2 linked regions of the Homo sapiens genome follow. The protein of the gene in region 1 purifies or fractionates together with the protein of each later gene. This does not show direct contact. Each region holds a gene or a part of one and is shown on either strand. Other genes may lie near its edges. The genes, in order: SLC2A2 and TRUB1.

Evidence for each region.
Region 2: the proteins of SLC2A2 (region 1) and TRUB1 purify together in Homo sapiens (affinity purification with mass spectrometry; 2 studies listed by BioGRID and IntAct, with this or other methods). This does not show direct contact.

Annotation. Positions count from the first base shown.
Region 1 is NC_000003.12:171,013,623-171,025,658, forward strand, and holds part of SLC2A2 (solute carrier family 2, facilitated glucose transporter member 2), read right to left. Parts: intron 5,002-12,036; coding exon 4,909-5,001; intron 4,834-4,908; coding exon of another isoform or gene 4,785-4,833; intron 1,110-4,784; coding exon 847-1,109; intron 1-846.
Region 2 is NC_000010.11:114,945,765-114,957,800, forward strand, and holds part of TRUB1 (pseudouridylate synthase TRUB1), read left to right. Parts: intron 1-5,329; coding exon 5,330-5,385; intron 5,386-12,036. UniProt on the Homo sapiens protein: Pseudouridine synthase that catalyzes pseudouridylation of mRNAs and tRNAs. Mediates pseudouridylation of mRNAs with the consensus sequence 5'-GUUCNANNC-3', harboring a stem-loop structure. Constitutes the major pseudouridine synthase acting on mRNAs.

The sequences.
Region 1 (12,036 bases):
TAGTTGCCTAAATTGTTATTTACATCTTTAAAGGCATTTTCACTTTCTAAATTTTTCATATATTATTTTTATCATGAGAAAAAAAGGTAATGCACAAAAGGTGGGCTCAAATAGGAGAAAATCTAAAAAATAATCATTTGATATTCTGGTTTTATCTCCTCTTTATATAGGGTGGGAAATCCTAACAGCTGTAGTCCATTGCATGAATAAGTAAAATTTGAGGGTAAAGGAGTTCCACTGATGTTTTTAATCCAAAAAACCTAACAGAAACTCAAGTGATAAATGGGGGTATCTCTTGCTTCATCTCTGGTTGGGGCTTTGAGATAGCAAGCAGTACCAGCAGCCAGAAACCGCATAACAAATACATTGGGCAATTGGGAGTTGGGGATGTTGACTGAACCTTTGAACTTGACTGATCCGAATGCCAAATTCTAATTTAAAAAGGGAAAACTGGATGTTTGAGACATAGTGTGATTTGGTGAAGCAAACAATGGACTCCCAGGTTAAAAACTCTAATTAGTCTCTTCTGCTGAGTTCCTGAGTTAACCGTTTGTGTAGTGGTCTCCTAGTATATTTTATAACTTACAAAGCTAGAGGATCAAAGCAATTATCTAGAAATACACACAAAACTCATGTTTGGTATAAATGTCTGAACAATTAACCAAACTGTCGCAACAGCTTTTTTCATTGATTTGATCTAACACTGATATGCCTCATAGGGTCATGAGTTGAAAAAACAACTCTAAAGCTATTCCACAAGAAGAAAGATAATATTTTTCTAAACAAGTGTTAGGAAAATGAAAATATGAAAGTTTCTGTTTATGCTTATTTATGAAATTTGCCTACCTTCCAAGTGTGTCCCCAAGCCACCCACCAAAGAATGATGCAGTCATTCCACCAACTGCAAAGCTGGATACAGACAGGGACCAGAGCATGGTGATTAGTTGAGCAGCTGCCACAGTCTCTTCCTCAGCCCAAGGGGTTGGTTTTGGGTTCATTGAGTATGAGATTGTGGGCAGTTCATCTGTACTGTTGATAACATAGTTGTTGATAGCTTTTCGGTCATCCAGTGGAACACCCAAAACATGTCTATAGTGAGATATTATTACCTAGGAGATAAAGAAAAATAGCTTTACTATTTCAAACATTCTATGTATTTTTGTTTTTGTCTTTAAAGTGTTTGTTACGTGTTTAAATAGTACCATCTCAATTATGTGTTTTATATACATATAAACATGGATAGATTTGTTTACAGTTGGCCATATCCTATAAAAGAAAGGTTATAAATTACATTGCCAACAAGAACCAGGCAGGAACAAATAAATGAAGGGAACATGTAATACTTTGATGACTAGGGGACTAAAATACATTTTCTACTATTTGGGACTAATAGGGAATGGTCAGGATTGTGGAACTAGAGGAGCAAGAGGAAGCTGCAAACGTGAAACTGGTGTTGGATGACCTTTAACTTTTTAACAGAAAGTCAGAAATCTGAGTTTTTATGTAAATTTTTTCGAGTTTTAAATATTGGCAACTATTGAAATTGAAACTATTCTGCAGGCTAGGCCAGGCGCGGTGGCTCACACCTATAATCTCAGCACTTTGGGAGGCCGAGGTGGGCGGACTGCTTGAGCTCAGGAGTTTGAGACTAGGCTGGGCAACATGGTGAAACCCTGTCTCTACGAAGAATACTAAAAATTACCCAGGCATGGTGGCACATGCCTGTAGTCCCAGCTACTTGGAGGGGGCTGAAGCGGGAGGATTGCTTGAGCCTGCGAGGTTGAGGCTGCAGTGAGTCAAGATGGAGCCACTGCACTCCAGCCTGGGTGAGAAAGTAAGACCTTGTCTCAAAAAATATATATATTCTGCAGGCTAAAAAGATACATTTTCATGCTAGTGTTACTTCTGCACAGCAGGATTTAAATTGACTTATACATATTTTAACAGAATCATAAAAGTGGATATAAGAAAAAAGACTGGGAAAGTTAAGATGAGGGTCAAAAATCAAGTTAGCATACAGAATTCAAACACTAGATGGTGTATCTTTGTTGGAAGTGAGCTATAGATTTACCAGTAAACTTCCTAGCCACCAGGGCAGAGAGGAAAACAACCGGGTATATTATTGATGAATTCCTAAGATAACAATAAGTTAGTGGCCCTTGAGAAGGTATTGAGACCCAAAGGAAGTTTCTCCTGTGGGTCCTCATAGAGTTAACTGTGTAACAGAATGGACAACATTGGAAACTAAATTTCATGGAGCCATATTTTGTAATATGCTTCATATAATTCAGATGAATTATAGGACATGGGAGGAAGACGAGGCCATCTTCCTCCCATGTCATTCCTCTCAATGATGATTTGGTCACTATTTAGCATCAGTGAGCTGGGAGGGTACTCTCTGAAAAGGACCTGGAATGCAGCTGCTCTGGGTTACTAGTTATGGGCAAAGGCCTGTTTGGTAATGCCAGCTGAGGGAGGGGAAGAATTGAGCATCCTCTTATAAAAGAAGTCTGATCAAGACATTTGTCTCAGACTGGGTGCCGTAGCTCATGCCTGTAATCTAGCACTTTGGGAGGCCAAGGTGGGCAGATCACTTGAGGTCAGGAGTTCAAGACCAGCCTGGCCAACGTGGCAAAACCCTGTCTCTACTAAAGATACAATAAATTAGCCAGGCATTGTGGCTGGAGCCTGTAATCTCAGCTACTTGGGAGGCTGAGGCAAGAGAATTGCTTGAACTCAGGAGGCAGAGGTTGAAGTGAAAATCTCCAGCCTGGATGACAGAGTGAGACTTTGTCTCAAAAAACTAAAACAAAAACATTTGCCTCACTAGAAGGCTGCCTTATATGAATAATATGCATAGAAAAAAAAGCTGAAGGAAATATCCAAAATGTTCTCAGCAAATAATTATGGGTATTTTTTTTTCTAATACTGTCTTCAGTAGGCATGTGTAATTTTCATAACCATATGAAAGTGTGATTTTAAAATCCTTCCAAATAATCCCAAATGTCATTCAGCTGATTAAAAAAAGGCTTAAAAAATCATTCTTATGTAATGGTGTTTCAGCAGCTCTTTAAATACAAAAGGAAGGGCCTATATAGAGAGAGAGCACTAACCTGGACGCCAGTATGGGGATCGCTGTTTTCAGCTCTGGCTCTGGGACTTGGATTGAAGGAGGTGAAACCTTAGCCTAAGCTTCCGTCTAAGACTGGAGGGGATGGTTTAATTTTTTCTTTTTTTTTTTTTTTTTTGAGATGGAGTTTTGCTCTTGTTGCCCAGGCTGAAGTGCAATGTGCGATTGCAGCTCATCGCAACCTCTGCCTCCCGGGTTCAAGTGATTCTCTTGACTCAGCCTCCCGAGTAGCTGGGATTACAGGCATGTGCCACCACGCCCAGCTAATTTTGTATTTTTAGTAGAGACAGGGTTTCTCCATGTTGGTCAGGCTGGTCTCGAACTCCCGACCTCAGGTGATCCGCCAACCTCAGCCTCCCAAAGTGCTGGGATTACAGGAGTGAGCCACTGCGCCCGGCCAGGGATGGTTCAATTAATGATGTGATAAGGTCTTCCACAAAAAGAGAAGGGGCTCTATTAATCAAGTCATGGTGATGTTGAATGTTAAATTGTTAAATGATGTTAAATTCCAGGAAACCTGCTAAATTGGCATGTGTTGTCATCACCCACACAAAAAAGATATGACCCTTGTCTCTTGACCCCCAGCACTATGCCCTGGATCTCTCAGCCTGCCACACTCCTGATGATTGTAGCACCTAATCGGAGCACGTCTTTCAGCAGGAAGCAGCCCTTTTCAGGTGATGGATTATGGTCAGCGCATATTTCACATATCCACACCCTGCAGTATCTTTCATTTTCCTTGGGGCTCAATGTTCTAAAAGAAGCAGAGGAAATATAATGGACTTACAGAAGGCACCGAAAAAATGTTTGTACCTTCACTTTATGCCACCTCTTCCCCAGGTTCCTCTTCTCTGTCTTTCATTAATTCACCCCTCTTTATTGAGTACCTTCTTTATGCCAACTACTGTGCTTGGCACCAGTGATAGGAAGAGGAACAATTCATCAGTCTTGCCCTCAATGACCTCACAGTCTGAGTTAGAGCAGAGGGGAATGAAGTCCTGGTTCCCCGACTTATGGGCTGTGGGAGCTGAGAATAACATACCTCTCCCATGTATTCACTGAATACCAGAATAGGGATGCACGAAATATATGAGAAAAATGGTTGAAATAACTTGATTAAAAATTCACCCAAGGAGTCATCGTGGAGAAAATCCAAACTTTGTTGAGCTTCTTGAATATTATTCTAAAGTTTTACATTATTTTACTTTGGGTCACCTATGGGAGACAGGAATGGAGGGGGAAGGACCATAATCTCTTTTAGTTTAGGGCTTCTTAAGGTTTTAATGTAGACTGGAAATGGGCATAATAAGGTTGTTGAGAGGATCCAGCTGGGGAGATCATATGTTAAAGTACCTGATGCAAATAAGCAGGTGCTCAAAAAATGTCCCCTGAGTGAAACATATCCTTATTCCCTGGCACTTTTCATTCATGTATGGCTGAGATCTCTGAATGAATGTTGCAATAAGCTCTTTTTTTCTTTTTTTTTTCTAAAGTATCCTTCAGCACATGATATTCTGCCTGGAGTTTTCTGTGAGCTCAGCAAACAGCAGAGTCAGAGATTAAGAATTATTTATTGCCTCCTTTTTTTTCCCCCGTGATTGTTAATTAGGGAGTCAAGGCCAAGTTATCAGCTTTGGAACAGTGCACATCGTACCTGACAGGCCAGGATGGCCTTGTGTCTCCCACGTGGACACCCTTTATCTCTGTGTATGAGGAACATATGATATCTATCACTGACAGAACTTGCCAAAAAGAGAACTTCTACATATTTCACTTGCCTGTTGAGGTGCATTGATCACACCAATGTCATATCCAAACTGGAAGGAACCCAGCACAGCAGTGATGACAGTGAAAACCAGGGTCCCAGTGACCTGCAGGGGGCGAGACACAGGGCAGGGAAACACCAGGCAATTTTAGTTTCCCATCTTTCTGTCAGGCTGCAGCTTAAACTTCTTACAGGCTCCACAGGCTGGTTCTTTCCCCTCAATATCGATTTGCAGTATGCCCTGTGCTCCAGGCTGGCAGGTGTTGTTCATACAAGAATGTGAGCCATTCATCATTTCCCCTATGCTGCTAAAACTCAAAGAAGTTTGGGACAGCTTCTTCCAGGGGAGGAAACAAACATTCTTTTCCATATATGTGTATGAGAATAGCATACCTCTCCTGACTATTCACCGGATACCAGAATAGGGATGCATAAAATATATGAGAAAAATGATTGAAATTACTTGATTAAAAAAATCCACCCAAATAGTCCTCATGCAGAAAATCCAAACTTTGTTTTATATATATATATTTGTTGATATGTGTGTGTGTGTGTGTGTATATATATATGTGTGTGTGTGTATATATATATATATATATATATATACGTATGTATATATATATATATATATATATATACGTATGTATATATATTCAGAATCAGGACTGAGAACTAGAATAGCTGCTGACGGAAGGGAGCCGCCAAGATAGAGCCATTATATCATTGGGAGCGGTAAAATAAGATACCAGTAATAAAGAGATGGGGAGCTCTGTTGGATGTTGCCATGGTGACAAAAATACTCATATAAGAGGCATTAGCTAGCCTTTATCATGTTCCGCATCAACATCCAGGGAAGGGTACTTTTCAGGATTTGCATCTAGTTCAGCCTAGAGTTGTAGGATAAGGGCCATTATTTTCTCCCCAACTCCCCAACTCCATGTAGTTACAATGAAACTGTGTAGAAAAGGGGCAGAACATTCATCCCCTTGAACTCATATTTACATGTCTAACTATCTTAGAGAAATCACATCATGCATACGGATACTTAGTTTAGCATTTTTTTGTGCATGTGATAGCAAAATTGTAGAAAGAACCCAAATATCGTTCAATGGGAAATAGTCAAATAGATTCAGATACATCATAATACATACATCAGATACATGTAATATGCTATGCAGCAGTTAAAAGGAATAATATGATCATGTGTACTGACTTATTTTTAAGTGGCGAAGGAAGTTATGTAATCTAATGTTTTTAAAGGCTTAAACATGAGTTTGTTTGATTTAAAAAATCAAACAGTTATTTGATTTGTGCATGACGTATATAATTTATAGAATGTTTTCTTGAAGAACAAATGAGTTGATGGTCCTTGAGGAGGAATGTGAGGTTGGAGAAGGAGAGTGAAGGAAATTTTTTCTTGTATTCATATGATTAGACATTTCATAAGGAAGATATTTCATGTACATTTACATAAATTTTTAAAAAGCTTGGGATATAGTAGGAACTTTGTTGTGTAAATGAATGAGTCACATCAACATGGATTCCAGTTCTCACTCTCTTAGTAGGTATGTGACCCAAGCCACTTCCCTTATAGGAGCAGTTTTTCTCTAAATTGTGGGGTGATAGTAAATCTCCCTACCCTGGTGTAAAGCCCCAGTATAAAGAATAGCAAATTAGCCAGAACCCTTCATTACCCTGAAAAGCTAGAGATCAGAAATTTCACAAAGTATTGTCACAGAACCATCCTGGGAGCCCTTGAAATTATTTAGTCCAGTGGTTCTAAAACCAGACCCTACTTGGAGAGCCTGTTACACATGTAGCTTCTTGGAGACAGCCCCAGATCTTCTACTGGATTAGAATCTCTGGGGTGGGGATAGGGAATCTGTAGGTTTACAAAGCTTCCACCCCTTTCACTAATATAGGGGGTATCTGTCAGACTTTCCCTCCTAACACTTCTTTCTCTGAAAGAAAGGACTTCAAAGTTGACCCAAAAGACATGGTTATATGATACATATATATTGCCCAAAAGAATAATATATATGTGATATATAATATTGCATAATATGTTTATTAGATATAAATTGGCCAGGCATAGTGGCTCACACCTGTAATCCCACCACTTTGAGGGACTGAGGTGGGCAGATGGCTTGAGCCTAAGAGTTCGAGACCAGCCTGGGTAGCATAGCAAGACCTTGTCTCTACAAAAAAATACAAAGATTAGCAGGGCATGGTGGTGTATGCCTGTAGTCCCAGCTACTCAGGAGGCTGAGGTGGGAGGATTGCTTGAGCCCAGGAGGTTGCTGCTGCAGTGAGCTATGATTGCACCACCATACTCCAGCCTGGGTGACAAAGCAAGACCCTGTCTCAAAATATATATATTTATTTTATATATTTATATATCATTTACATCTGATATTTATCACTTATATATATCATTTATATCTTACATATAAGATATATTAACATTTTATGTTTATTACACGTGAATTATATATATTATACATAAAATGCATACACACACTATATGATATATGGTCTATGTGAGTATGAAAGATTTTGAATTTAAAATCTAAAATGTAACTCGACATCTAAAACTCAGTGGCTTAGATAGCCAAATCTAAGATGGAATTTTATTTACTTAGTTGGTGGTTTCTCCTCAAATCCTTTTTCCCCTCAAGCTATTTCCAAGGATAGGGATTTTCATCCTTTTTACAGGTGGTAGCCATTGTCAGAAGTGATGGGATAAGGAGTACCCTGGGAGGGCTTTAACCCACTTCCCTCATACTCTCCATCACTGAAACCAGGACAATCTCATGTGAGATGCAACACAAACAGATTCAAAGCCTAATACTACTTATGCTTACTGCATGCCTGTTCACTATGTGGATTATCTCATTTACTTCTTAAATTAGTTTTCTATTGCTGCCGTAACAAATTACCACCAGTGCAGCAGCTTAAACAACACAAATTTATTTATCTTAAAGTATAGCCAAGCATGGCAGCTCATGCCTATAGTCCCAGCGTTTGGGAGGCTGAGGCTGGAGGATTAATTGAGGCCAAGAGTTCATGACCAGCCTGGGCAGCATAGCGAGATCCCCATCTCTACAACAACATCTATAGATGGGAAGTCTGGTATAAGTATCACTGGACTAAAATCAGGTTGTTGGTAGGCTGTGTTCCTTTCTGGAGGCTGTTGGAGAAAATTTGGGTTGATGATGGAATTCAGTTCCTCTTGGTTATAGGTCTAAAGTCTGTCGTTTTGCCCTGGTTATAAATTAAGGGCCATTCCCAGCTCTAGATGCCACCAAATTTCCTTGGCTACTGGTATCTTTCTTTCCTCTTTATAGCCAGTAATGGGCAGGTCAGGTCCTTCTCATGTTACATCTCTCTGGCACTGACAAGTAGCTGGGAAAGTTCTTCCCTTTTGAGAATTCATAGGATTAGATTTGACCCATCAGGGTAATCCAGGAAAATCTCATCTCTAGGTCTATTACCTTAATCTCATCTGTAAAGTCTTTTGCCACATAAGGCAAGATATTCCCAGGTTCTGGCAATGCAGCTGTGGACTTCTTTGGAGGACGATTATTCTGTCTACCACATTCTTCATGGCAGCACCATTAATGTCCCCATTTTATAGATAACTAGATTAGTTTAACATCTCACAGTTAGTAAATTAAAGAACAATGACTTGGTTCCAGATCTTACGCTTTTAACTTCTTGGTTATTTTGCATCCCTCATTAGTCAGATACAGACATTCAAAAGCGAAGCACATCTGAAAAATCTAGGACCATAATCTTTATAAATTAAAAAAGCTAAGAGCATACATATCCACAGAATTTACCACTTGTGGGTGTTTAGCTGTTTGGCTTCAAACACACAGAAATCTCAACCACATTTTCCCACCACCTACCACACAAATCCCTTTTCCCCCACTTACCAGTAGAAACTTTTGGTGAGGTCTCTGGACAAAAGTCCAAAAAGGCAAAGCCTACTCAATTGCTCATCGGTAGCTGAGCTGAAGAGGAACCTCAGGGTCTTCCCACCACCAAGCCCAAGACCACAATATACTTTCCCAGTCTCATCCCTGCATTTTCTTTTCTTCTGTGGCACTTGGTTTATTAGTGACTGTCACCTCCTGCTTCATCCCTGGATTTCTGTTCTCTGGGGGTTCTCTCCCTGTCCCTCTACCATACAAACATATAATTTATTTCTCCTTATTTTAAGAGTCCAATCAGTAGCCATGCTAATGGTGAGCAGGGGCGACACAGAAATTGAAGTTGGGGTGATAGCGATAGCTGCAGCACATGTACTCCCCTGTCGTCTCCATTAGTTCACCCCTGTCACTTTACATACACAGCCTAAGTCACAAAGTCCCACATTACTTTGACAAAAATGAAAGCTAATTTTTAAAGATGCTGGATCTCCCATCCTATTTCTTTCCAATCAAATTGTTCTATAGTATAGAAATTCTGGAGCTGCCTCTAAGATCAGTTTCTCATTTTATTAGAATAACAAAAATAGCAACTATGAAGGAGATAGGAGAGTTTTTAAACATTTAGAAATCTTAGCGTGTTATTAAAGTCCTTATCCTCTGGCCTTCCTGGTTTCTTTTTGAGGGTTGACTGTGGTCCTGCCACCCCAGGGCCTGCAGTTCCTTATTTTAACTCCTCAAGATAGAATTTTACCAGGTTGGTCAGATAAGGAGCAATCTCATCCATTTTAAGCAGGTCATTTGAATTTCTGAGAATTTCCAACAAAAGTGATTATCCCAAATATCAAAATCTCTGAAACTGTTTAATGGCATTTCCTTTTGCTTTCTTTTTCTTTATCTTTTATTTTCAGGTTTAATTGCCCTCTCTGAACTCCATGTTAAAATGGCTCCCACTCCTTCATCTTTTCTTTCTCCAATGTTGTGAAATGAAAAGAAGTAATGTTTATAGTCAGCCTTGTATGTGGCTTGGCTCTAGACTTGGTCAAAGGAGGTTTTGTTTCTAAGGGGAAATTTCTGAACACGACCAAGTCTTAATAAGCCCCGTCAACCTTCATTCATCCACTCTAATGTCCAAGAAGTTGACACAAGAAGAAGTACATAAGTGCTACTGAAAATAGCAAGAAATTAGAGAGGATCTTAACCTGTCCAAGTTCTGAGGTTCTAGATGGTTTGCCTGTTTTCTCAACAACCCAGTAGGTAGGAATTATTATTATCATTTCACATATGGGGGAGCTCACATGGAAAGAGTAAACAGCTTGTCCAAAGTCCACATAACCTAGTAAGTGCAGAAGATCTTCAAGCCTTTTCTCCTAACTTCCTCATAGGCTATAAGGTGTTCAGCTTGCACTTTAAAAAATGCTACCTTCATTAGGAGCTTAATAACTTTAAGTTAGAGAAACTAGATTTCATATCCAATTTAAAATATGCTGCTGGATAAATGTGGAAGGGTAGAATAAGCAAATGGCTGAACTTCAACATAAAACAATGTAGTGTTTATATTGTGGCTCATAAGTCATATAGGGTCTATTAGAAAAAAACAAATAGATGTGGGAGTCAGAAAAGCTCCAAAAGAGTCCCAGCTAGGCTCCTAACGTCACTGAGCCTAAGTTTCTTTGCCTATAAAATGGGTATAAAACTAGTTAATGCATAGGATTACTGTAAAAACTAAGATAAATAATGTGGTCTTCCTATAAACAGTAAAAGGGCTACAGAACAAATGCATCTTTAATCATGTCTTTATCATCTCATTCATTTCTTTTGTCAAACAGCCATGTGTCAACTTTTCATACTTTACCGATACTCTTTGCAATACCACAAAGTACATGAAATTATTCCTATTTTAGAGGTGAGGAAGCCAGGGATCAGAGAGGATTAAGGAGCATACCTAACACTACACAGCTGGTGACAGATACTCTAGTGTGGGAACCGAGAGCTGATGGTCTTAAACGCCACTGCTAACCTGAAGAGCAGATTTTTCCAGCAATTACTGATTGACTAGGTAGGGAGGAGAAGCTTATACCCTTTTCTTTAAACTACATGTCTCCAAAACCTAAACCAAAGGTGATCTTGCATGCAACTTTGGAAAAAGCCAGGGGCTTATCAAGTCACAGAATTTTTAAGTTGAAAGAGACCTTAGAGAACAATGGATTCTTGTCTAATTCCTCCATTCTTCAGTTGTAGAAACTGAGGTCTCACAGGCCAAGTTGTTTATGTCATTTGTCTGATTTCTGTGAGCATTTTGGGCATATTCAGTGTGACAACTCAGGTCTCTTGACCCCAGTTCCTTGCTTATCCTACTTCTTTCAAAGTCTGGATAGATTCACAAAGCTGAAAAACATTGCACTACCTCAGTTCTCATTCTTTCTGGGTTCCATTGTTAGGCAGTTCCTTGGTTATCAAGAAAAGATCTACAACGTAATTTCAAAAGCCCCTAAGAAAATTAATGATAGTTTTGAATGAATCTTGAACATCTGCGATGTGCCAGACACTATGTTAAGCACATTACCTTCCTTTTTGCAGTAGCTTTCAAACTTTAGTTATTTGATTACTACCTTCATGAATTTTGCCAAATCTACATACCATCTATGTAGTTGTTAACTTAATGTTTGTCTTTATATTGACCTTAAAGTTCTAACTACTTTAGCTTTATCCTGGGCTATAATACTCATGAAATCATGATGTGCTAATTATTCTTTAAATACATACTATATAAATGCTATATAAATAGCATTTTATATTTAACTTTAAATATCAAACATATAAATGGTGCTTATATAATATGTATTTAAAGTGTTTATACATTATAATATAATTTATCTTTTATAATTTATAAATACTATTTAAATATGTATTTAACACTATTAATAATTATATAACTATTAACATTAAAATTGTTGTCTAAGCCTCTCTAATATAATCTCATTTAATTACTCCCTAACTCTAAAGTACTAGTATAATCCCTGAATATCCCATATTATATCACTGAGCCCAAGTTTCTTTGCCTATAAAGGGTATATTGTATCCTAATATGTTTTTGTTTTCTCACAATAGAGAAAACCCAAAGCTCAGTTAAATAACTTAACCCAGGCCTCACAGCAGTTTAGTGGCATTGCTAGAACCCAGATCCAAGTCTGGCTGACTCCAAAGCC
Region 2 (12,036 bases), on another chromosome or scaffold:
AAGCCAAAAGATTGGACACTCTTGGCCTAAGGGATCTTGTTGAAGCTTCCATTTTAGTATTGTGAAGGGGCTGAGATTTGTATGCGTGGAAGAAATTGTATTGGAAACAGTTTTCTGGTTGGAGGCTCAATTTATATTTGATCACACAGGGAATTTTATGATGATATAATATGTTCATATGTCAGATGTATTAATTTTTCTTTTAATGCATGTGATTTCCGAGGAGAGAGAAAGTTTAAAAAATTGTAGGTGTTTAGTCACAGAGTAAGGGATGTTTGTTGTCCAAGTTAGCAGTTCTGGAAACTTATGAGAAGTCGATTTTTGATTGTGTGATAAAATAAACACTGAACTCTAATCATACTTCGGTTTGTACACTGGCTACTGGCTGCTTTAGTTACTAACTGTATACATCCTAAGAAAATCTCGTAACTTCACTGAACGTGTCTTCATCTCTTAAAAGAAGATAACGTCTACCAAAACTAAGTCAAAAGGTTTTCAAAAATATTTTACAAAATACCTATAGTATATAGATATATACTTTATCCTGTGAAGTGCTGTATACAGGTCTTTTTTATTTTTATTTATTTATTTTTTTGAGATGAGTCTTGCTCTTGTTGTCCAGGCTTGAGTGCGGTGGCGTGATCTCAGCTCACTGCAACCTCCACCTCCCAAATTCAACTGATTCTCCTGCTTCAGCCTCCTGACTAGCTGGGATTATAGGCGACTGCCACCATGCCCTGCTAATTTTTGTATTTTTAGTAGAGTCAGGGTTTCATCATGTTGACCAGGGTGGTGTTGGACTCCTGATCTCAAGTGATCTGCCCACCTCTGCCTCCCAAAGTGCTGGGATTACAGGTGTGAGCCACCATGCCCGGCCAAAAGGTCTTTTTTGAAACAAACAAACAAACAAACAAAACTAAAACTGGACCTATGCAAAAAAAATATACTTTTACTTTCAACATTTTTTTTTGCAATATTAATGGTGCAGATTAAGAATTTAGCTGACAATTTAAGATTATAACCTGAAATTCAGGTTTATAATTCTATAGCATAATTGCTAGAGGGTTCACAAGTTTCTCAAAAATACGTGGTAGGCAAAATAATGGCCCTCTAAAGGTGTCTGTGTCCTAATTTCCATAACCTGTGAATATATTAGGTTACATCACAAGGAACATTAGGGTTGTAGATGGAATTGATGTTGCTAATCAGCTGACTTTAAGATAGATTATCCTGGAATTTCCAAGTGGACCCAATGTAATCACAATATTCTTTAAAAGTGGAAGAGGAGGCAGAAGAGAGAGTCAGAGGAGATGTGGCAGTGGAAGCAGAGGTTGGAGTAATGTGGTTGCTGGCTTTGAAGAGTGAAGGGGATCACAAGCCAAAGAATGGGGGCAGCCTCTAAAAGCTGGAGGAGGCAAAAAAAAAAAGGTCCTCTACGGAGGCTCTAGTGAAGGATTCTCCCCTAGCACCTCCAGAGAAGAACACGGTCAAGCCAACCCTTTGATTTTAAGCCTAGTTAAACCTGTTTCAGGCTTCTCACCTCCCCAACTATGTGATAAAAAGTTTGTATTGTTTTAAGACAGATTGGTAATTTGTTAACAGTAGCAATAGGAAAGGAATACACCTATTTATCATAAATCACTTAAAATGTAAATAAAATTTCTATATACCATTTCAAAAAAATTTTTTTAACTTTAGAGGTTATAGAAACAGTGAGAAAATTTAGAAAATACAAGAAAGTTGCAAATAAAAAATTATCCATTTTCCACCTTTCATCAATAGTCAGTTAACATTTTTGCCATATTTCCTTGTAGCTTTTTGTCTATGCAGATTTTTAAAGTTGAGATCTACTTCACTGTGTATACTTATATATCCATTTTTTTAAACTTAACATTGTAACATAAACATTGTTCATGTTGATAAGCTCTTTGTAAACTTTATTTTTAATGGCTATAAAATGTTCCATCATATGGCTAAAATACCATTTATTAACCATTTCCCTATTTGAGGTCACTGAGGTTATCACCAGAGTTTTGTCAGAACTGATTTTGTGAGAGATGTCTTTATAGATAGAACTTTTTGTTTGTTTTGTTTTTAGTTTTTACCCACACATCTGTATCAGCCAGATGTTTCAGATTCTTAAAATAGATTCCTACGATTGGAAAGATACAGGTCTTGTAAGATGATCCTACAGAAAGCTGGAAATACATGTATAGAGTCCATGCCTGTCCTAAAGAGACTCTCATCATAAACAAATTCTATCTTTTTGATTTGAGAATGGGATACTAGGACATTGGATAAGTTTGGAGATAGTTATTTTTGTTTTTGTTTTTTTAACGGAAAAGACATTTGAGTGAGCACAGAACACTTGGGAGATAGAGTAGGAGAGTAGTAATTGTGCAACAGTGCATGGAAAACCCCGTTATTCATCTGCTCTCTAAATTCTCCACACCTTTTCAAATGTGGTGCCTTTGCTCATGTTTTTCTTTTATAAGCTGCTCATCTCTCTCAGCACCTTTGGTTGTAGAAGTCCTACTGACCTTTCCAGGTTCAGCTGAAATGCCATTTCCTACCTTTGAAGCCTGCCTGCTGCTCTTCTATACTGCTAATGTAAAATTTCATTTTGTTCTTTTAGTTTTTGTTAATATCTGTCTCCCTATTATATTGTTAAATCACAGCTGAAGCCAGGTCTTATTTATTTCTGTACCTACACAATAAGTACTGGATACAATTTTGAATGATTGAAGGGAAAAAATGCCGAGTAAAAATTCTGTCCGGGAAACTAACCTGTGAATGAAAAGCTGCTGGTTGGCTAGGTCCCAACTCCAGATAATTTTTCTATATGCCACCACCATATTAGTCTTCCTAAAATTCTGCTTTCACTAATCACCTCACTTCAATGGCATTTGGTTATTCTTAGGTTAAAATGAGAGGATTAAGCTGGGTAACTCTAAGATGGCTTCTTTTAAATTTTATCCTTCTGGGTCACTAAACTAGCTCAGAAACCATCATGAGTTCAGTATTTCAGCCATGTTAAAGTCAAACATGTCAGTCTGCTTCTAAGACACCCTGTGTTCAGTTGATAAACCTACTGTTCTCATCCTTGTATCTGAGAGTTTGTGCAATTATTTTCTTTTTTAGAACATGCTTCTCTTCTCTCTGTTGTGTTCCCTATACATCCTTCAAAGGCCTAATACAAACTCCGAAATGCTTGAATGAAGCATTCTCCGGCCTCTTTAGCCGTTTAGGATGCTCCCACCTTTGCCCTGCTTTGGCAGCGGTTCTCTCTCTGTTCATTTGACACTTAATCATATACTATCATATTGTTATTTAGCATTATTCACTCATTAGGCAACATTTCTTGAGCACTGTGATTTTTCTGTATTTTATTTTCCTGATGAGATTATAAGCTGTTTCAGAGTTAGGAAATGTGTCACAGGTTTCTTTGTTTTTCCATTGGAAGTATTCCTCTTGGGATTATGTGCATAGTAGTTGTTCAAGAAAAATTGATTGGAGATTTATTTGAATGGAATCAAGTCGCATTGAATCTTTCCTGTTTGCCTCATCAGCAGCAGTATCTACAAGTTCTGTCATTTGAAGAGTATTATGCTCTTCAGAGGATTACTGAGGACAGACTGTTTTTGATCTTAGACCTTGAACTATATGACTTAGAAGGACAATACAGATGAGTGTCATAGAGGTTTTGAGGAGGTTGGAATAGACTTTATGAATGAGTTGGGGCTTGAGCTGGGCTTCAAAGGATTGACTTTGAATACTTTAATAAGGAGTTGGTGCTGTAGGCACTGGGACCCTACTAAGGATTGTTTGGGGGGCTTTGTAATGTGAAAAATAGGGTTTCAGAAATGGTTATGAAGTGGTATGAATTGGAAGAGGAAGGGATAGGATGTAGAACCGTCAGGTTTGCAGGGATGTAGGCTGGTTGCAGTGAGGAGAAAGCCTAGGTGAGTTAAGGTGGCAGAGGGAATGGAAAGGAAGGGGGGTCTGTTCTTAGACCATTTGGTTTGAATCTTAACTCTACCAGGTACTGGTTGTGAGATGCTGGACAAAGTTCTTAGTCTCTTATTCCTGTTTCCTCATCTATCAACAGGGGTAATTATACTATCTTTTAAAGTTTTTTTTTTTTTTTTTTTGAGACAGAGTTTTGCTCTTGTCACCCAGGCTGGAGTGCAATGGTGTGATCTTGGCTCACCGCAACCTCTGCCTCTTGGGTTCAAGCGATTCTCCTGCCTTAGCCTCCCAAGTAGCTGGGATTACAGGCATGCGCCACCATACCTGGCTAATTTTGTATTTTTAGTAGAGACGGGGTTTCTCCATGTTGGTCAGGTGGGTCTTGAACTCGTGACCTCAGGTGATCCGCCCGCCTCAACCTCCCAAAATGCTGGGATTACAGGCGTGAGCCAACACACCTGGCCTTTTAAAGTTGTTATAAGGATTAAATGGGATAATGAAAGGAGAGCATTTAGAGTAGAATCTGATACATGGTAAACTCACTGAATGGTATTTGCTGTAAATATTGGAGATATTTTTTCTAGTTTGCCAATCAGTAGTCCTTGTTTACTCTTATAATTCTGAATTGTGGTGATTGTATTGTGTTCTTATGCACAGTTATATCTGTTGATGACAAATATTTCTATACTTACAAAAATGTGGCTTCTTAACAAAAAGAGAAGTGACTAAATCCTCTCACCCTCACCAAGTGAAATGTGTTGACGTATGAATAATGTTTGAAATTTAAGAGAAAGGTAGGCCATTGTTGTACTTTGGGCTCTGTAAATACATTCTTCAGCCTTCATTTTACCTTGTATTCTTTGTGTTAGACTGATTTGTTATGTTTCTCTTTTCTTGATTGTATATACTGCTGGGTGCTAATCATCTTTAAATGGTTCATTAGCTGTGATAATGGCTTTTGCTTTGTTTAATAATGAATTCTGTCAAAAGACTTTATCATACCCACTTGAACATGGTTAATTGTGCCGTGTGTTTTTCACTGGTGCCCATATAAAATTCCAGTGCGTCCTTTGAGATTGTTCTAAGGCTTCATTGTCTAATTGGCTGGGTTAAGGTTTCTACTGAGTTTAATACTTTGAGAATGGGGAGAAAGGTCTTCTCTTGTCCCTTCTTTAGAATTTCTTAGTTGCATGACAAGTTCAACTGTTTGGAGTAATAGGAGCCCTAACATTTTGCTAAATATCTGTTCTTTCCCACTTCACATTACCTAAGCTGGGAAATTATGACCAAAAAATATAGCTATTTTAAAAACCTAGTTTTCAGAACAGAGTGTCATAATATTTCTTTCTTTGATTTGTAGTTGTTGGAATTGGAAGCGGAACAAAAATGTTGACCAGTATGTTGTCAGGGTCCAAGGTAAGAATACTGAAATAGTTCTATTTTTCTTTAATGTTCTTAATGATCTACATGTATTGGGTTTTTATCAAATAAAAAATAAACTGAGTAAACTGCATGAATGGGTATCATTCCTGAGTATTAATTATGTCTATAAACATATCTGAGATTGAAAATATCGAGACTGAAAATTGGAAATTCTTAATTGAAAAACCAATTAGACTTAAAGAAACAATGCTACAGTGCTCATCATTTAACAAAATTATATTTAGACTTTTAAAACATCATATTTCTTAGATGATTGGGACTTAGAGGTCATAAACTCTAGTGACAGACTTTTTTAAACCTTGGAATTTTTATAGAAACAATACCATTTTGTAAACTGTGCCCTTTGAGCAAAAATATGCTTTGTTCAATGGTTATAAATGTTTATTAAAGAAAAGAGTAGGGCCTCTTTAAGATGATAAAGTATGTTCATATATGAGAGTAACCTTGAATAGATCCAAAAGCACTTTTCCAGGCACTTGATAGAAGAGAGAAGGGGTTATTTGGAGGCAGGAGAGGCTGGAAAGCTGTGAACTGCTGGTAGAAGGGGTCTCTTCCATCTCTCAAAGAGAGAGTAATATCTGTATCCTAATGAGTAATTAGGTGCTGGTTATAAGTGCTGGGACTAAGGGTCAATGAAAATGCACGTGGAAGGAAGCTTAGTATGCCAAGAGGTAGCGAAAAATTTCATTATGTTCCTGGAATAAACTTTGTTTTAAAACTCTTGCTCTAAATGTGATATAAATTGTTGATAAAATGATTTTTGTTTCTTTAAAAAAATCTGTTGTCAAAGACCATTTAAAAAACAATTTCCAGTTCATTGCAGACTGATTGATGACTTTTGTAAAATATAATTAAAATACGGCAATGTAAAATTGCTAAATAAGTTTCTACGCAATCTCATTTTCTGAACTTATTATAGATAACTGGCCTGTGGAAAACACTTGACGTAGTAGTGGTTTAAGTATTAAAATAAAAGCCCTGACCGAGCGTGGTGTCTCATGCCTGTAATCCTAATACTTTGGAAGGCCGAGGCGGGCAGATCACTTGAGGTCAGGATTTCGAGACCAGCCTGGCCAACATGGTGAAACCCATCTCTGTTAAAAATACCAAAAAAAGTATCCAGGCGTGGTGCTATACACCTTTAATACCAGCTACTCGGTAGACTGAGGCAGGAGAATCACTTGAACCCAGGAGGCGGAGGTTGCAGTGAGCCAAGATCACGCCATTGCACGCCAGCGTGGGTGACAGAGTGAGATGACTCCATCTCAATAAATAATAAGTAAGGTAGGTAGGTAGGTAGGTAGATAGGTAGATAGGTAGGTAGGTAGGTAGGTAGATAGATACATAGATACATAGATTGATTGATTGATTGATCGATTGATTTTAAAAAGCCTCGGAGAACATATTGCATGTGATGTCTCATTTTGGTTATCAACTGGCATAAAAATCTGTGCCATTCAATTGGAAGGAATCTTAGTGCCTCTGATAAATGAAAAGCTTCAGTGTGGCTTGCTCTGTAATCTTCAAAATATTGGTGTTGAAAAATTACAGAGTATAAAAATTGCATTAGAATGAAGGTGTTTGACAGTTTCTCAGTAAATTTTTATACTGTGCTTACTGACACATAGAGTTTAGAATCTGTTTCTGATACTGGTTTTTGCCAGTTGTTTAATATTTGTTTCTGAACTCCCAAAGATGAACAATGTTTACTTTAATATGGGATTATGGATGATTTTTTTTTCACATTATTTGGTATTTTCTAAAATCTATACAATAAACAAGTCACTTTTATGTTAATAATAAAAAAGATATATTTACGTTAAGGAATTTGTTTGGGTTTTTTTACCAAGATAAAATATGTTGAGTTCATTGAGATATTCGTTGTTCACCCCTCCTCCCCCAAACCACAAACACAGCACACTATATATTACTGAAAGATTTTACTTGTAAATTTCAGGCATATTTTCAGAAATATTATGACTGAAAATGTAAATACATCATTGACTCTGGTATAAATTTTGTAACAGCCAATTTGCTGTTCAGCTACGAAAGCTGAATGTCATACAGTGAAATCACTGATCCTCAAAATGACTGTAACATAAATAGAATACCACAGGCACGTCTTGTTACAGAAACCTAGTTCTTAGGTATTTCAAAAATAGGCATCGTTGTCTTGTTAGCTATTTATATTTCTTATCCTTTTAATTTTATGTACCTGTTAAAAGAACTAAATCATTAAGAGTTTAATGTTGAAGATTATTTTTTAATAAAAAGTAGTTAAAAACTGTTAATAAATATTTTTTCTTTTTTTAAAAGCACTAGAAGGAATCTTAGAGATCATCTTATCTAGTGACTTTCAAAATTTTTTTGACTAAGACCCATAGTAAGAAACATATTTTATGTAATGACCATATAGATACATACATTTATGAAAAGGAAAAATTTTATCAAACAACTTTGTGTTAGTCTGTTTGTGTTGCTGTAAAGGAGTAGTCGAGGCTGGGTAATTTATAAAGAAAAGAGGTTCATTTGGCTCATGGTTCTGAAGTCTGTACAAGAAACAAGGTACTGGTATCTGCTTCTGGTGAGGGCCTCTGGAAGCTTACACTTGTGGCCATGTCGCATGGTGAGAGAGGGAGTGACAGAGAGAGAGGCGGAGGTGCCAGGCTCTTTTAAACAGCCAGATCTCGCGTGAACTCATTGCAGGGAGGGCACCAAGCAATTAATGCAGGATCCGCCCTCATAACCCAGACAATTCCCACCATGCCCCACCTCCAACACTGGGGATTATATTTCAACATGAGATTTGGAGGGGGCAGACATCCAAACTTTATCCAACTCTAACCCTATGTATGATGTATTCTTGATACTTTTCCTTCTATTTCATTAAAAAAAAAAATGTGGCTGCAGCCCCCTAACTTGGCCCAGATCTAATGTCCACTTTTTCTTCACTTCCTATTTTGACAGATGAATTTTTATTTGCATCACAGTGCAACTAGAAAAATTAGACTTCTGGTATGTGTAGGATGGAGTTACGTCAAGAGTAGAAATATTTAGTTCTAGGATGGCAAATATTCAGTGTTCTTGTTACAGCCATATTACAGAACAGCCTTCTCTCCCTAGCCAGTCGTAATTGGAGATATTGCTAATTGAACATGGCCTAACATTTCTTCTTGCTGAATCAAGAAACACCCTTAGAATCTTCTTCAACATGGTGCCACTTCATACAACTACTGTCACTTACTAGATGAAATTCTGGCTTTTAAGTAAAATCTTTAGGCCATCACATTATTTTGCTTCCATCTGTGAAGACTAGACACTAATCAGACCACCCAAATCATTTCTTGCATTTCCTCCCATTCAGATCAGGGTAAAAGTTAAGAAAAGAGCCACTGCTCTGTGTTCCTCATTGTCTTCCTCTCCTGCCTTGGAGTGAGCTTTGTTCTGCCAGTGATCATATTTCTCAAGTCTTTTTTTTTTTCCCTGTGCCTGATCATTTAGGATTATGTGTATAATGTGTGTGAAAAGCATGTGAACTTTTTGTACAGTGCCTTGTGTATGGAAATTGCTCATTAAATACTGTTATTACTATTCCCAAGTATTTTACTTATCCCCAAGTCTCTCTCTTGAGGTCCAGGCCTGTTGGAGCTTTCTAGCCACATGTTCTGTAGACACCTGAAATTAATTTTACTCAGGCAAGTTCTGTTGGAACTCTTGAATACAGTTAATTTCTTTTTTTTTTTTCATGGCTATCTGTGATTGCTGGTGATGTAGGCAAAATATTGCACTCATCAGAAAGAGAAAGCATGCCAGTTCTTTAAGGGAGAGACAGACTTTCCTTGGACATTAAAGCCAGAAAGAAGTTTCTGACAATAAGAGATATTAAATGACAGATAGATGGTGATTTTCAAAAATAGTTTTACAACAGATGTAGAAATGGAGCTACATAAAATACAGTTTAGGTAAAATTCTGAGAGGTTAGGCTGATGTGTTCCTTTGGCCTAAGTTGATCTAAGTATAAAACGTTGCTTACCTAGAGGAGGGCAAATAGCCCCTCTTATATCTTCCCTAAATTACACTTTCTTTGAGCCAGTCATTCAGCAAAAGCTGGATAGCAGATGTCGTACTTTGAAGGAACAGACAGAAGGAACAGAAGAAAACAGATGAGGTTTTGGAGTGCTGTCTTTATTAGTTTTCTATATTGTTGATCAAAGTTGGTTACTTTATAAATGCTTTAGAAACCAGATGGAAAGGTTATGAAAACCTGAATAATCTAACTAGCATGTCCAGATATAAAGGTACCTCCATATCTCTGTGCAGGTAAACCATAGTGGCACCTGCAGGCAAAGCCAGCATCTCCTCAGAAGGCAACTTTGTATCCCCCTCCAGTAGTTAAACAAGTGTCATCATTGGAGTGAATGAAGTTTCCCCTTCTTGGTGTGGTCAAAGGATAGTAACTTTCCCCAAGAACACAGTAACATTTTTAGGTTAACCAGTTATGAGAACTCTAAAGTGTGGCTTGAGTAATGCTCCTATGAAACTTAGCCAACTCTTGAAGATTTCAGCATTTCTAATCAGTTTTCTCCAGAGGCTAGTCCAGTTTGTACCTTTTCTATATACGCTATTAATTTTCATATATTTCATAAATACTGTATTGAAAATTTTAAAGGGCTTATACTTATGAACTATAAAAAAGGACTGTTCCTTCTTAATGAAGACATTCAAAGCCACATGTTTTTGGTTTGATAGGTTTTTTAAAAAGTGTTCTTTCTCATCCTCAGTAATATCCCTATTTTGTTTGTGAAGGTTTAAATCACAAGCTTTCAAAATCACACCTCAGTTGAGATCCAAGGAAATGATTGTGTGTATACTTTCTGTAGTAGAAACATTTTTCTTTCTCCTAAACAGAACAGAAGCTGATTTGCTGCTAGAGATGTCTAGCTAATACCTGCTGTGGGGTTTAGGGAGCTTGACGATGAGTAAAGTAGAGAGTAGAATAATACCAGTGAGAAACTGTGAGTCCCAGAGAGTACACAGGTCAATGGAATGTTCTTCAGGACCTCTCTTTTGTTGCAGTAGAATTACATTGTAATGAATACAGTAGTAGAATTCACGGTTCCCAGGTATACGTCTTGGAGAATTAACAACTCCAAAGCACAGACTCTACGTAGAATTTAAGCCAGTGAAAAGAAATATTTTAGACTCCATAAGATAAAATGTTAGGGTTGAATGTGTGTATCTCCATGTCTTTTTTCTTCTATCCCAATATCTTTTTGGTCGTGAGGCTTTGTTTCAGCTGAAGGCTTAACTGTGTGGGTGAATTTTTCTAAATGGTTTGTGGATAATTGAATAAAATTGAAGGATAATTATAACTAGATGCCAGGACAAGGGAAAGCTAGGAGACAGCTGATTTCAATCATCGGTTCGCAGGGTGTGGTCTAAGGACTCCTGAGACTCTTTCAGGGTGTCTGTTGAAATTGAAACTATTTTCATAGTTTTGCCTTTTTAACTTGCAATCCCACAAATACATGGTAGAGTTTTTCAGAGATTACTAGATGTGCAATGACATCATTGCTCTGATGGCTAATGGAAGTTTTAAACATTTTTCAGCTTTAATTTCTAATACAATAAATCTAGGCAGATATAACATGTTTTTAAAAAATGTGTGCCAGGGTTTCTCAATAAGTTTTAAGTGTGTATAGGAGTTCTGAAAGCAAAATGTTTGAGAACATTTTGATTTGATTTGATTTGAGAATGTTGATTTAGATATTGTCTCCCCTAAAAAGAATCCAGCACGTAGCTACATACAATATAATTGCAGACCCTGGAGTGGGTTGAGACTTAGCAGATGAAATCTAGATATTCAAAACTATGGTGAAATGTGAAGAATTGCACACATAGGCACTTCTCTAGCATGTGTATCATTCTGTCAGCAACTTTTTATTAAGCTGCTACTGTGTTTCTATTTAGGAAAGAACACAATAGATGAGCAATGGGAAACTCTAGCTGAGAGTTCATACTTGCAGAAAGTAAGGATCAATAAAGTATACTTGGAAAACAGTGAATATCTCTGTAGGTCATCATGTGCTAAGATGTGTGATATGTGTGATATGAGAGCTCAGTGAGATAAACCAGACATGTCTGTTGTTGCCATTATATCCAGTCCTCTCTGCAGTAGTTGTGTTTATTGAAGTTTTCCTGTTACACTGTAACCTCTTAGAGGGAGAGCAATCTATCTTATGTATCTGTGTATCCTTCCCTAGCACTTAGGAGAATACTTTGGACATTCATAGTCCTTAAGAAACATGATCGAATTTGTGGATTTGATATATGCCTTCCTTCTTTCTATGTATGGAATTTGTATCGAGCACCTACTCTTAGTCATGCTGTGGAGGTGGGTAAATGGAAGTTGGGATGGATTAAGGGGTGGCTTTGAAAGCTGAATAAGGTTTGATCCTTAGAGAAGAGTGGGAGTTCAAGGCCAGGGAAGTGGCATATGTGCCCCAGGTGCACAAAACACCAAGAGTCCAGAGACTAGAATGGGCATTGCATACTTGGGAAACATGTTAAGGTTCCTAGTTCAAACTCGTTGCAGAGCAGAATACTGCAGATACATTCAAGGCA